Linked DNA regions of Homo sapiens: region 2 is linked to region 1. Evidence: fine-mapped expression QTL. A gene starts in region 1. The other region holds a variant in brackets. All regions are shown on one strand. Distances are between the middles of the regions.

Region 1 (5,369 bases):
GCCACTGTGGTCATCACCGAAAACATGGGAGGCTGGAAAGGCGGGGCTGGAGGCAGCTGCCCACTCTGGTGCCAGCCCCTAAGCCAAGCAGCTCAGGCACTGACAGTTTCCCGTGGCGCCCACAGGCACCCCTCCCTCCAAACCCCCCTCCCTCCAAGCTCCCCTCCAAGCTCCCCTCCCTCCAGCCCCCTCCCTCCAAACCCCCCTCTCTCCAGCCCCCCTCCCAAGCCCCCTCCCTCCAAGTCCCCCTCCCTCCAGCCCCCCTCCCTCCAGCCGTTGCACAAGTTCCGCAGCAAAGCTCAGCTCAGAGGCTACACTGCGCCACAGGGGTGGGGGCCTCTGACTACCACCCTGTCCCAGTCTTGCCTCTGTCCCCACAGTGGGATCCTCCCACTTCAGTCTCCAGCTGCCTGGTTCCCCTCCCAAGGCAGCCTTGTCCTCACTGTGGGGCCGGGGAGAGGCCAGCAGCCCCTGGGGCCCAAAAGTAGAACAGGACAGGGACAGGGGTGGTGGGAGGCAGGCCCCCTCTGAGGGTGCTGGGGCAAAGGTCTGGACAACAGTTCATGGTTGCCATTCCTCCCAGGACACACGATCTGAGCCCCCAAAAGACCTGACAGGACAGACGCGTCCTCATTCCCAGCATCCCAGCATTTTGGGAGGCCGAGGTGGGAGGACTGCTTGAGCCAGGAGTTTGAAACTAGCCTGGACAACATAACAAGACTCTGCCTCTACAAAAAATTTTAAAAAATTAACCAGGCATGGTAGTGCACACCCATAGACCCAGCTCCTTGGGAGGCTGAGGTGGGAGCATTGCTTGAGCCCAGGAGGTTGAGGCTGCAGCAAACCGTGACTGCGCCACTGCACTCCAGCCTGGGCAACAGAGCAAGACCCTGTCTCAAAAAACAAAAAACAAAAACCCACACACAAAAAAGCAAACTTGGCTGGGCGCGGTGGCTCATGCCTGTAATCCCAACACTTTGGGAGGCTGAAACTTGTGGATCACCTGAAGTCAGGAGTTTGAGACCAGCCTGGCCAACATGGGAAAACCCCATCTCTACTAAAAATACAAAAATTAGCTGGGCGTGGTGGCAGGCACCCATAATCCCAGCTACTTGGGAGGCTGAGACAGGAGAATCACTTGAACCCGGAAGGTGGAGGTTGCAGTGAGCCAAGATCGCACCACTTGATCCTGACTTCAGGTGATCCACAAGCCTTGGCCTCCCAAAATGCTGGGATTACAGCCTGGGCGATAGTGCAAGACTCCCTCTCAAAAAACAAACAAACAAACAAACAAACAAACCAAGCCTGACCTGCATTGAGATCTCCAGGACGTCTGGGTCTGGCCACGCCTGGGACCACACAAGGTCCCGTGCAGCAGAGTGGCAACGTGGTTGGGTGAAGAGGCTGATGGGGCCTCCCACTGTGGCTGAGAGTGGGGTGTTGGTTGGCTGGGGCTCAGGGTGACCCCGCAGGGCCATCCCAGCCTGGCTGGCACCCAACGTGGGCTGGTGTAGAAGAAGGAACCTGGCCTCCAGGCTCCAGGCCCTGGCTTAGAGGGAGCGGGGAGTCTGGACTTCAGGCTGGATCCCTTCCTCTTCCTGGAGCGGGTGCTGGCCCCCAACCCGCTTGCGTCAGGGACAAAAGGACTCCTTCCCTTTCCAGCCTGGAAAGCCCCTCTGCTGCAGGCTGGAGGAAGGGACCCTGGGCCCAGCCTATAGTCAGCGGTGTCTATGGGCATGGATCTGGACGGGGAAAAGGACAAAGCAGCCTCCATCCACAGTTCATTCCGGGACCAGGCCCTTGCAGGCACGCGCTGGGCTCCTGTGGGAAGACACTAAGGGCCCCAGGACAGACCTCCTCTCCGGGCATCTGGGTTCCTAGATGGCAGAGGTGGCAGAGTGGGGTGGGATGGCCCAATTGGGAGCTTTAGCTTCCGGCAAAGAGCTGAGCACAGTACATCTTCAATGTGTAAGATTCTCCTGGGAGACCAGGGCCCAGCTGGTGGTGAGCTGGGGGAAGTGGGTGATACTGCCGTGGGAGGAGCCACCTGGCCCTCTGGGGAAGTGCACTCGCTGTCTGCAGCGCCCAGGCCTGGGTAGCTGGGTGGGGGCTGGGGGGCCATCTGTGCTCAGGGTGCCTGCACCTGGGCCTTCTCTGCCCTGGGCCAAGCCTGCCCGAGCCTCTCTGTCCTCTGCCTGCCCAGCTGGACATCTCTGGGCCTCTCTGGAGACCAGTGGGGTGGGCTGTGGGGGCGTCATATTGCCCTGGCTTGGCATCCCTCTTGTGGCTGTACCCCTCCCAGCAGCCCCAGGACTAGCAAGTCCCCGAGATGGGGGTGGGGACAGTGGTTGATGCCAAAGGTTGTGGGGGCAGGGGCGGGGCAGGAGCAGGAAGGTCCCCTGAGTTCCCTCACCTTGGGCAGAGATAAAAGGAGCACAGTTCCAGGCGGGGCTGAGCTAGGGCGTAGCTGTGATTTCAGGGGCACCTCTGGCGGCTGCCGTGATTTGAGAATCTCGGGTCTCTTGGCTGACTGATCCTGGGAGACTGTGGATGAATAATGCTGGTGAGTGTCTGGCCCTCGGGGAGGCCCAAGCTGGGGACAGCTAGGCAACCTGGGAGGGGAGGACGGGGGTGGCGCTGAGTGGGGCATGTCGGTGTCCCTGAGCCCATGGGAGGGGAGGACGGGGGTGGCGCTGAGTGGGGCATGTGGGTGTCCCTGAGCCCATGGGAGGGGAGGACGGGGTTGGCGCTGAGTGGGGCGTGTGGATGTCCCTGAGCCCAAGTGACAGAGCCTCCCCTCCCTCGTGCTGCTGCAGGGCACGGCCCCACCCGGAGGCTGCGAGGCTTGGGGGTCCTGGCCGGGGTGGCTCTGCTCGCTGCCCTCTGGCTCCTGTGGCTGCTGGGGTCAGCCCCTCGGGGTACCCCGGCACCCCAGCCCACGATCACCATCCTTGTCTGGCACTGGCCCTTCACTGACCAGCCCCCAGAGCTGCCCAGCGACACCTGCACCCGCTACGGCATCGCCCGCTGCCACCTGAGTGCCAACCGAAGCCTGCTGGCCAGCGCCGACGCCGTGGTCTTCCACCACCGCGAGCTGCAGACCCGGCGGTCCCACCTGCCCCTGGCCCAGCGGCCGCGAGGGCAGCCCTGGGTGTGGGCCTCCATGGAGTCTCCTAGCCACACCCACGGCCTCAGCCACCTCCGAGGCATCTTCAACTGGGTGCTGAGCTACCGGCGCGACTCGGACATCTTTGTGCCCTATGGCCGCCTGGAGCCCCACTGGGGGCCCTCGCCACCGCTGCCAGCCAAGAGCAGGGTGGCCGCCTGGGTGGTCAGCAACTTCCAGGAGCGGCAGCTGCGTGCCAGGCTGTACCGGCAGCTGGCGCCTCATCTGCGGGTGGATGTCTTTGGCCGTGCCAATGGACGGCCACTGTGCGCCAGCTGCCTGGTGCCCACCGTGGCCCAGTACCGCTTCTACCTGTCCTTTGAGAACTCTCAGCACCGCGACTACATTACGGAGAAATTCTGGCGCAACGCACTGGTGGCTGGCACTGTGCCAGTGGTGCTGGGGCCCCCACGGGCCACCTATGAGGCCTTCGTGCCGGCTGACGCCTTCGTGCATGTGGATGACTTTGGCTCAGCCCGAGAGCTGGCGGCTTTCCTCACTGGCATGAATGAGAGCCGATACCAACGCTTCTTTGCCTGGCGTGACAGGCTCCGCGTGCGACTGTTCACCGACTGGCGGGAACGTTTCTGTGCCATCTGTGACCGCTACCCACACCTACCCCGCAGCCAAGTCTATGAGGACCTTGAGGGTTGGTTTCAGGCCTGAGATCCGCTGGCCGGGGGAGGTGGGTGTGGGTGGAAGGGCTGGGTGTCGAAATCAAACCACCAGGCATCCGGCCCTTACCGGCAAGCAGCGGGCTAACGGGAGGCTGGGCACAGAGGTCAGGAAGCAGGGGTGGGGGGTGCAGGTGGGCACTGGAGCATGCAGAGGAGGTGAGAGTGGGAGGGAGGTAACGGGTGCCTGCTGCGGCAGACGGGAGGGGAAAGGCTGCCGAGGACCCTCCCCACCCTGAACAAATCTTGGGTGGGTGAAGGCCTGGCTGGAAGAGGGTGAAAGGCAGGGCCCTTGGGGCTGGGGGGCACCCCAGCCTGAAGTTTGTGGGGGCCAAACCTGGGACCCCGAGCTTCCTCGGTAGCAGAGGCCCTGTGGTCCCCGAGACACAGGCACGGGTCCCTGCCACGTCCATAGTTCTGAGGTCCCTGTGTGTAGGCTGGGGCGGGGCCCAGGAGACCACGGGGAGCAAACCAGCTTGTTCTGGGCTCAGGGAGGGAGGGCGGTGGACAATAAACATCTGAGCAGTGCCTCGTGGGTCTGGCCAGTGTCTCATGGGTCACCTCCGTGCAGGGCCACAGAGCCTGCATCTGCCCTCCCCTGACATGTCGCCCCCACGGCCATGGGGCTGCTTGTTCCCCACGGGGGGTCCTGTCGCCTGACTTCTGGGCCTTTGCTCACCCTCCGCCTGAGAGCCCTCCCTGTGCCGGGCTGCCCACTGGCTACCCCAGTTCCTACAGCCTCCGCCAGACGGCCCCTTATCAGAGAGCCTTCTGTGTCCCCCAAAAGGCCAAGGCGATGAGCCCAGGAGTTCGAGACCAGCCTGGGCAGTGTAGTGAAATCTCATCTCTACCAAAAATACAAGAATTAGCAGGGCGTGGTGGCTCACGCTTGTGGTCTCAGCTACTTGGGATACTGAGGTGAGAGGATGGCTTGAGCCCAGGAGGTTGAAGCTTCAGTGAGCCGTGATCACACCACAGCACTCCAGCCTGGGCAACAGAATGAGACCCTGTCTCAAAACAAAAACCAAAACAGGCCAAGGTTGGGGAAGAGTAGGGAACGGACGTCAGAGGCCTGGCCAGGCTGAAATCGCCCATCTCCCAGGCCCGCAGGCTGGAGGGTGTCTGGGGTGACAGGGTCTGACCTGTGCCTTGTAGCTCCCTCTGGTGGCCAGTGCTGGGGAGGCACTGGGGATGCGGCTGCAGCCAGGGAGCCCCTGTAGTGGACGGTGGAGAGTGGGGCGAGGAGGAGAGAGGCCAACCCACGGGTGGTGCTGACCAGGGCCCCAACAGGCTAAGCCCCCGGGGCTGGGGCACAGGGCTTGTCCCTACCCCAGGTAGGGGTGGGCAGGTTGAGGGCAGGAAGCCCCCCTCACCCATGGCTGTGGCTTGTGGGAAAGACCTGCTGGTAGCTTCCTGCCCTGACCCAGCCCTGTGGACTGAGCAGAGAAAAGCAAGTGCCTTGAGGCTGCGGGCTGGGGTGGGAAGCTGATCCCTCACTCACTAGCCCAGGGTCACCTTCCTGCTGCAAA
Region 2 (5,369 bases), 68 kb before region 1:
GTGTAACACCACCGACCTGCATGCCTGCAACAGCGTGAATGTGTGTAACACCACTGACCTGCACGCCTGCAACAGCATGAATGTAACACCACCGACCTGCACGCCTGCAACAGTGTGAATGTGTGTAACACCACCGACCTGCACGCCTGCAACAGCATGAATGTGTGTAACACCACCGACCTGCACGCCTGCAAGTGTGAATGTAACACCACCGACCTGCACGCCTGCAACAGCATGAATGTGTGTAACAGCACCGACCTGCATGTCTGCAACAGTGTGAATGTGTGTAACACCACCGACCTGCACGCCAGCAACAGCGTGAATGTAACACCACCGACCTGCACGCTTGCAACAGCGTGAATGTAACAGCACCGACCTGCACATCTGCAACAGCGTGAATGTGTGTAACACCACCGACCTGCACGCCTGCAACAGCGTGAATGTGTGTAACACTGACCTGCACGCCTGCAACAGAATGAATGTGTGTAACACCACCGACCTGCACGCCTGCAACAGTGTGAATGTAACACCACCAACCTGCACGCCTGCAACAGCGTGTGTAACAGCACTGACCTGCACGTCTGCAACAGCGTGAATGTAACACCACCGACCTGCACGCCTGCAACAGCGTGAATGTGTAACACCACCGACCTGCACGCCTGCAACAGTGAATGTGTGTAACACCACCGACCTATACTCCTGCAACAGCATGAATGTGTGTACCACCACCGACCTGCACACCTGCAACAGCACGTGTAACACCACCGACCTGTACTCCTGCAACAGCAGGAATGTGTGTAACAGCACCGACCTGCACGCCTGCAACAGCGTGAATGTAACACCACCGACCTGCACGCCTGCAACAGCATGTAACACCACCGACCTGTACTCCTGCAACAGCATGTGTGTAACAGCACCAACCTGCACGCCTGCAACAGCATGAATGTGTGTAACACCACCGACCTGTACTCCTGCAACAGCATGTGTGTAACACCACTGACCTGTACGCCTGCAACAGCCCAAATGTGTGTAACACCACCGACCTGCACGCCTGCAACAGTGTGAATGTGTGTAACACCACCGACCTGCACGCCTGCAACAGCGTGAATGTAACACCACCGACCACGCCTGGAAATGGTTAAGGTGGTGCGTTTTGTGTGTTTTATCACAGTAAAAAACCTGAAAACACACATGCACATACACACACACACACAGTACCTGCTGTGATGAGCAAAAGGTAGCTCCAGGGGAGGCGCATCCAGCCAGAAAGCCTGCCCCCTTACCTGAAACTTCTTATCCCCTGTGAGACGGGAGAGCTCCCGGAACTCCAGCTGAATGCTGGTCACCTCGGCCACAGTGCTGTCGGAGGTCCACCGTGGCGGGTGGGCAACTCCAGTACCGATGTTCACATCCGAGTAAGGAATCTTGGATGGTGTTCTGAAGGCAGGCATTAGCCGATTTCCAAAATCCTCCTGGTATATGAGCAGAGTAGAGAACCAACGTTCAGGTCACCCAGAGGCCTCGTCTACACCCTTTCATGCAGTTCAGTGGAGACACTGAAGGCTCTCTGGGGTCAACACAGCAGCAAGGAAACGGGCATCACTCTGCACTGAGTGAATGTCTCTACAAGGCCAGTGGTGATCAAAGTGGCTTCATCAGCTCACGAATATGAGCTCAGAAACAGACTCCAGTGCATTTGAAGAGGAAACAGGAAGACAGTCACGTCCCCACAAGTCCACTAAAGGGGTAACTGCTTGAATGCGAGTCCACCATCTCCCTGCAGGACACCCCAAGACACTTACAGCTTTCCTCAGGAAGAGGCTGTCCCCAGACAGGTGGTAGGCACTCAGGAGCCCCCCCAGGATGCGGATCGTGCTCTCAAACAGGTTGACGTCCACGTCCTTTTCAAAGTGTAACTTCTTCGACACCCACTTCCTGGCTTCCTCAAATTCTATGACATAAAACAGTAAAGGATGCAGAGACAAATGGATGGCTCCAACGTTTTCCTATTATCTATCCATCTTCAAAATACATTTGGCTGGGCGTGGTGGCTCATGCCTGTAATCCCAGCACTTTGGGAGGCTGAGGCAAGTGGATTGCTTGAGCCCAGGAGTTAGAGACCAGCCTGGACAACATGGGAAAACCCCATCTCTACTAAAAACACAAAAATTAGCTGAGT[A/G]TGGTGGCGCATGCCTGTGGTCCCAACTACTGGGGAGGGTGAGGCATGAGAATAGCTTGAACCCGGGAGGCGAAGGCTGCAGTGAACTGAGATCGTGCCACTGCACTCCAGCCTGGGCCACACCACTAGACTCTGTCTCCAAAAAACCCACGTTTGAAACCAGGAGGCCAAGGTTGCAATGAGCCGAGATTGCGCCATTGCACTCCAGCCCAGGAGACAGTGAAAGACTCCATCTCAAAAACAAAAAAACAAAAACAAAAAACCAAACCCATGTCTGGGGCGTTATCGTTCCCCTGCAGGGCTTCAATATCACCTCCTATCTCAAGGGGGTAAATCTTGAAGTCGTCAACATTTGTTAATAAAACGGAGTCAGCAGTGCAGTTGCTATGGCCACCAATGGGTCACAACCAAAGGCTACGACCCAAAAAAATTACACACGTCGTTTACTGGTGGTCTTCAACCTATTCAAAAAATTAGGCAAATGTTTAAATTATCGCTTAAATAACCGAAGACACATACTCCCAATTCAAAGTGGATGTGCTGGTCTATGAAGGATGCTGCTGAGATCTGGGACCAGCGGGGCCCCACAGTCACTCATCCCACCACCCCCAGCTGCAAGAGAAGCACAGCCTGGGAATGTCCCTTGGACGTCCCCCAAAGAGTCCACACTCAACTCCTGCAGAGGTCTGGGGACAGCGGCCCTGTGTGTGCCTTGGGTGGCTGGACAAGAACAGGAACTGACCACAGCCAACACGTCCACTCCCGCACCCAGGAGAAGGGAAAACCCATGGTCAGATGCAAACAGCAGCTTTCACCCCGTGTGCAACCCACACTCTGCCTCAGCACACGAGGCCCACACGGAGGGCTCAGCCCCTCCCCAGAAAGCACCAGGTACCTTTCCTCAGACCCAAGATCCACATGGTGTCCAGCGCGTCGATCAGTGTGAGACCGAGGCCAAACCACTCACTGAAGGACCTGGACACAGGCTTCAGCTCGTCATGGCCCCATGCAAACTTGCGGTATCCTTTCCATGCATGCAGGAAGACGTCAATCACGCCCTTCTGGCGATAGTTCAGATGCACTAGTAGGGGGGAGAGAGCACAGGCCATGGCGGACGTGGTCCTGGCGTCGGCACAGATGGACACCCTCAGGCAGAGCACTGCTGTGACCCCCATGGGGCAAAGATGACGGTGGGTTTGGGACGACGGGAAGGGCGGTGGTGGGCACAGCAAAGGCCAGGGCCACAGAGGCTGCAGCAGCCCCCAGGGAGAACACAGCCTGCCAAGGGCCTGAGACCTCTGGAGACTGCACAGGATGGCACCTGTCACCCGACCACCTGACTGGGGCCCATGCACCTCCACCTGGCGCCTGGGCAGGCACACCCTCCTTGGGCCTCGGTGGCCTCTGGCCAAAGGGACAAGGGTGGCTGCCCCAAGGGCGCTGGGACAGCACAGTGAGCACAGCCTGTGGAGACGTGGGTGAGTGTGGTGCCAACTCAGAATGTGAAACACGGACGGGTGCAGACCTCGCGATGAACATCCTCGACTCAAACACGCTCCTTCTGCCACGTGGGCTTCAGGTGCTCCACGGGAATCGCACTGTGCACACGCGCTACAGTCCCTTCGTTCCCTTTTTTTAAATTTTTTTGGCTGGGCACGGTGGCTCCCGCCTGTAATCCCAGTACTCTGGGAGGCCGAGGTGGGCAGATCACCTGAGGTCAGAAGTTTGAGACCAGCCTCGCCAACATCGCGAAACCCCGTCTCTACTAAAAATACAAAAATTAGCCAGGTGTGGTGGCGGGTGCCTATAATCCCAGCTACTAGGGAGGCTGAGGCAGGAGACTTGCTTGAACCCAGAAGGCAGACGTTGCAGTGAAGTGACAAAGCAAGACTCTGTCTCAAATATACACATATATATAAATTTCTTTTTTTTTTGTAGAGATGGGGCCTCACTGTGTTGTCCAGGCTGGTCTTGAACTCCTGGACTCAAGAGATCCTTCTACCTCAGCCTCCCAAAGTGCTGGGATTACAAGTGTGAGCCACCACGCCCGGCCAACATTGACTAATGTGTGGATTGACACGTGTGTAACGGCACCAAACCACACGTCCTCTCAGGAAAGGTTCTGAGGCCTCCTTGTGCTCATGGCATGTCTATGCCTCTGCCTCTGCCTCTGCCCTCATTGATGCCGCAGAGATTGCTACACATCCCTCACAGGCCCGGGGCTGGGAGTCCTGGCTCTGGGCTCCCTCCCCACCTCAGAGACACCTGGGGGGCATGATGAGAGCAGGGCTCCAGACTCAGCGACCTGCCATGAGCCCCCACAGACAAGCAAACGACTCTGGGGGTGGCTGTCCTCAGCCCTGCTTTTCAGTCTGGAGAACGGGAGGGTGAGTGGCTTATCGTGTCAGAGGGTGTCATGAGGTTGAAAGAGGCCTCAGGTCATGCACTGAGCTTGGCCGAAGGCCCGCACCTGGGAGGCCCCCAACAAACGGTGCTGAGAATGAAGTGGCCCCCAGAGCTGCCTGGGACTGGCCAGGCCGAGACAGGGGACACAGCACGGGCAGCAGTCTCCAGGGATCCCGTGGGGCAGCCTGGCCCAGACACAAACCTCTCAGACACACCTTCTTCTGCAGCCATGTGCTCAGGGACAGCAGGCCAAGAGCCACATGGTGTCACCAAGGTTGCAGAGCCTGTGAGGACTCAGACAACAGGGGGATGCTGAAGGGCAAGGTGCACACCAGGGCGGGGGCGCCACCCACCATGGCTGAGACGAAGCCTGCACCCATCAGCCACCAGCCCCTGAGCGCCCGGGGAGGAAGGGGTGCAGGTGTGGCCTCACCTGGTGTGCCCTGTGTCCTGGCCGGTGGCAGGGGAGGCTTGGTGGGCACTTCTGCTCTTCTTGAAGGGAGCTCGGTGCCCTGCTCAGGCTCGATCACCGCTCCCCTCCAGCTTCGGGGGAGAAGGAAGGGTGTCAGCTGCCGTCAAACATTTGTGGCTCCATGTTTCCCACCCCCACGCTCCATACCCACGGCCAAGGCACAGCCCTGCACCCAAAGCGGCCCCATCATCCTGAGGTGCAGGCTGCTGAGTGGCAGGAAACACACAGTTCAGTCCTGAGCTCCCGTGCCTGAGAGCCAAGACCACAGCACTGCTCCAGGGTCAAGGCTGGCCTGAGGTCAGAGACCAGAGC

The links.
Region 2: its variant is fine-mapped to the expression of FUT7 in whole blood (TOPMed, PIP above 0.99).

Annotation. Positions count from the first base shown.
Region 1 is chr9:137,029,173-137,034,541 of GRCh38, reverse strand. It overlaps FUT7 (fucosyltransferase 7), which reads left to right and starts at 2,454. Exons shown (of 2, transcript NM_004479.4): 1 at 2,454-2,563; 2 at 2,817-4,368. The coding sequence starts at 2,551. The coding sequence ends at 3,832. It overlaps LINC02908 (long intergenic non-protein coding RNA 2908), which reads right to left. Exons shown (of 3, transcript NR_171031.1): 2 at 1,311-2,544. RefSeq lists an enhancer at 2,310-2,419.
Region 2 is chr9:137,097,587-137,102,955 of GRCh38, reverse strand. It overlaps MAN1B1 (mannosidase alpha class 1B member 1), which reads right to left. Exons shown (of 13, transcript NM_016219.5): 5 at 5,019-5,128; 6 at 3,075-3,260; 7 at 1,803-1,951; 8 at 1,284-1,472. LOC124902313 reads right to left here and starts at 1,277. Exons shown (of 3, transcript XM_047424371.1): 1 at 1,044-1,277. The variant A/G (reference allele first, on the strand shown) is at 2,180.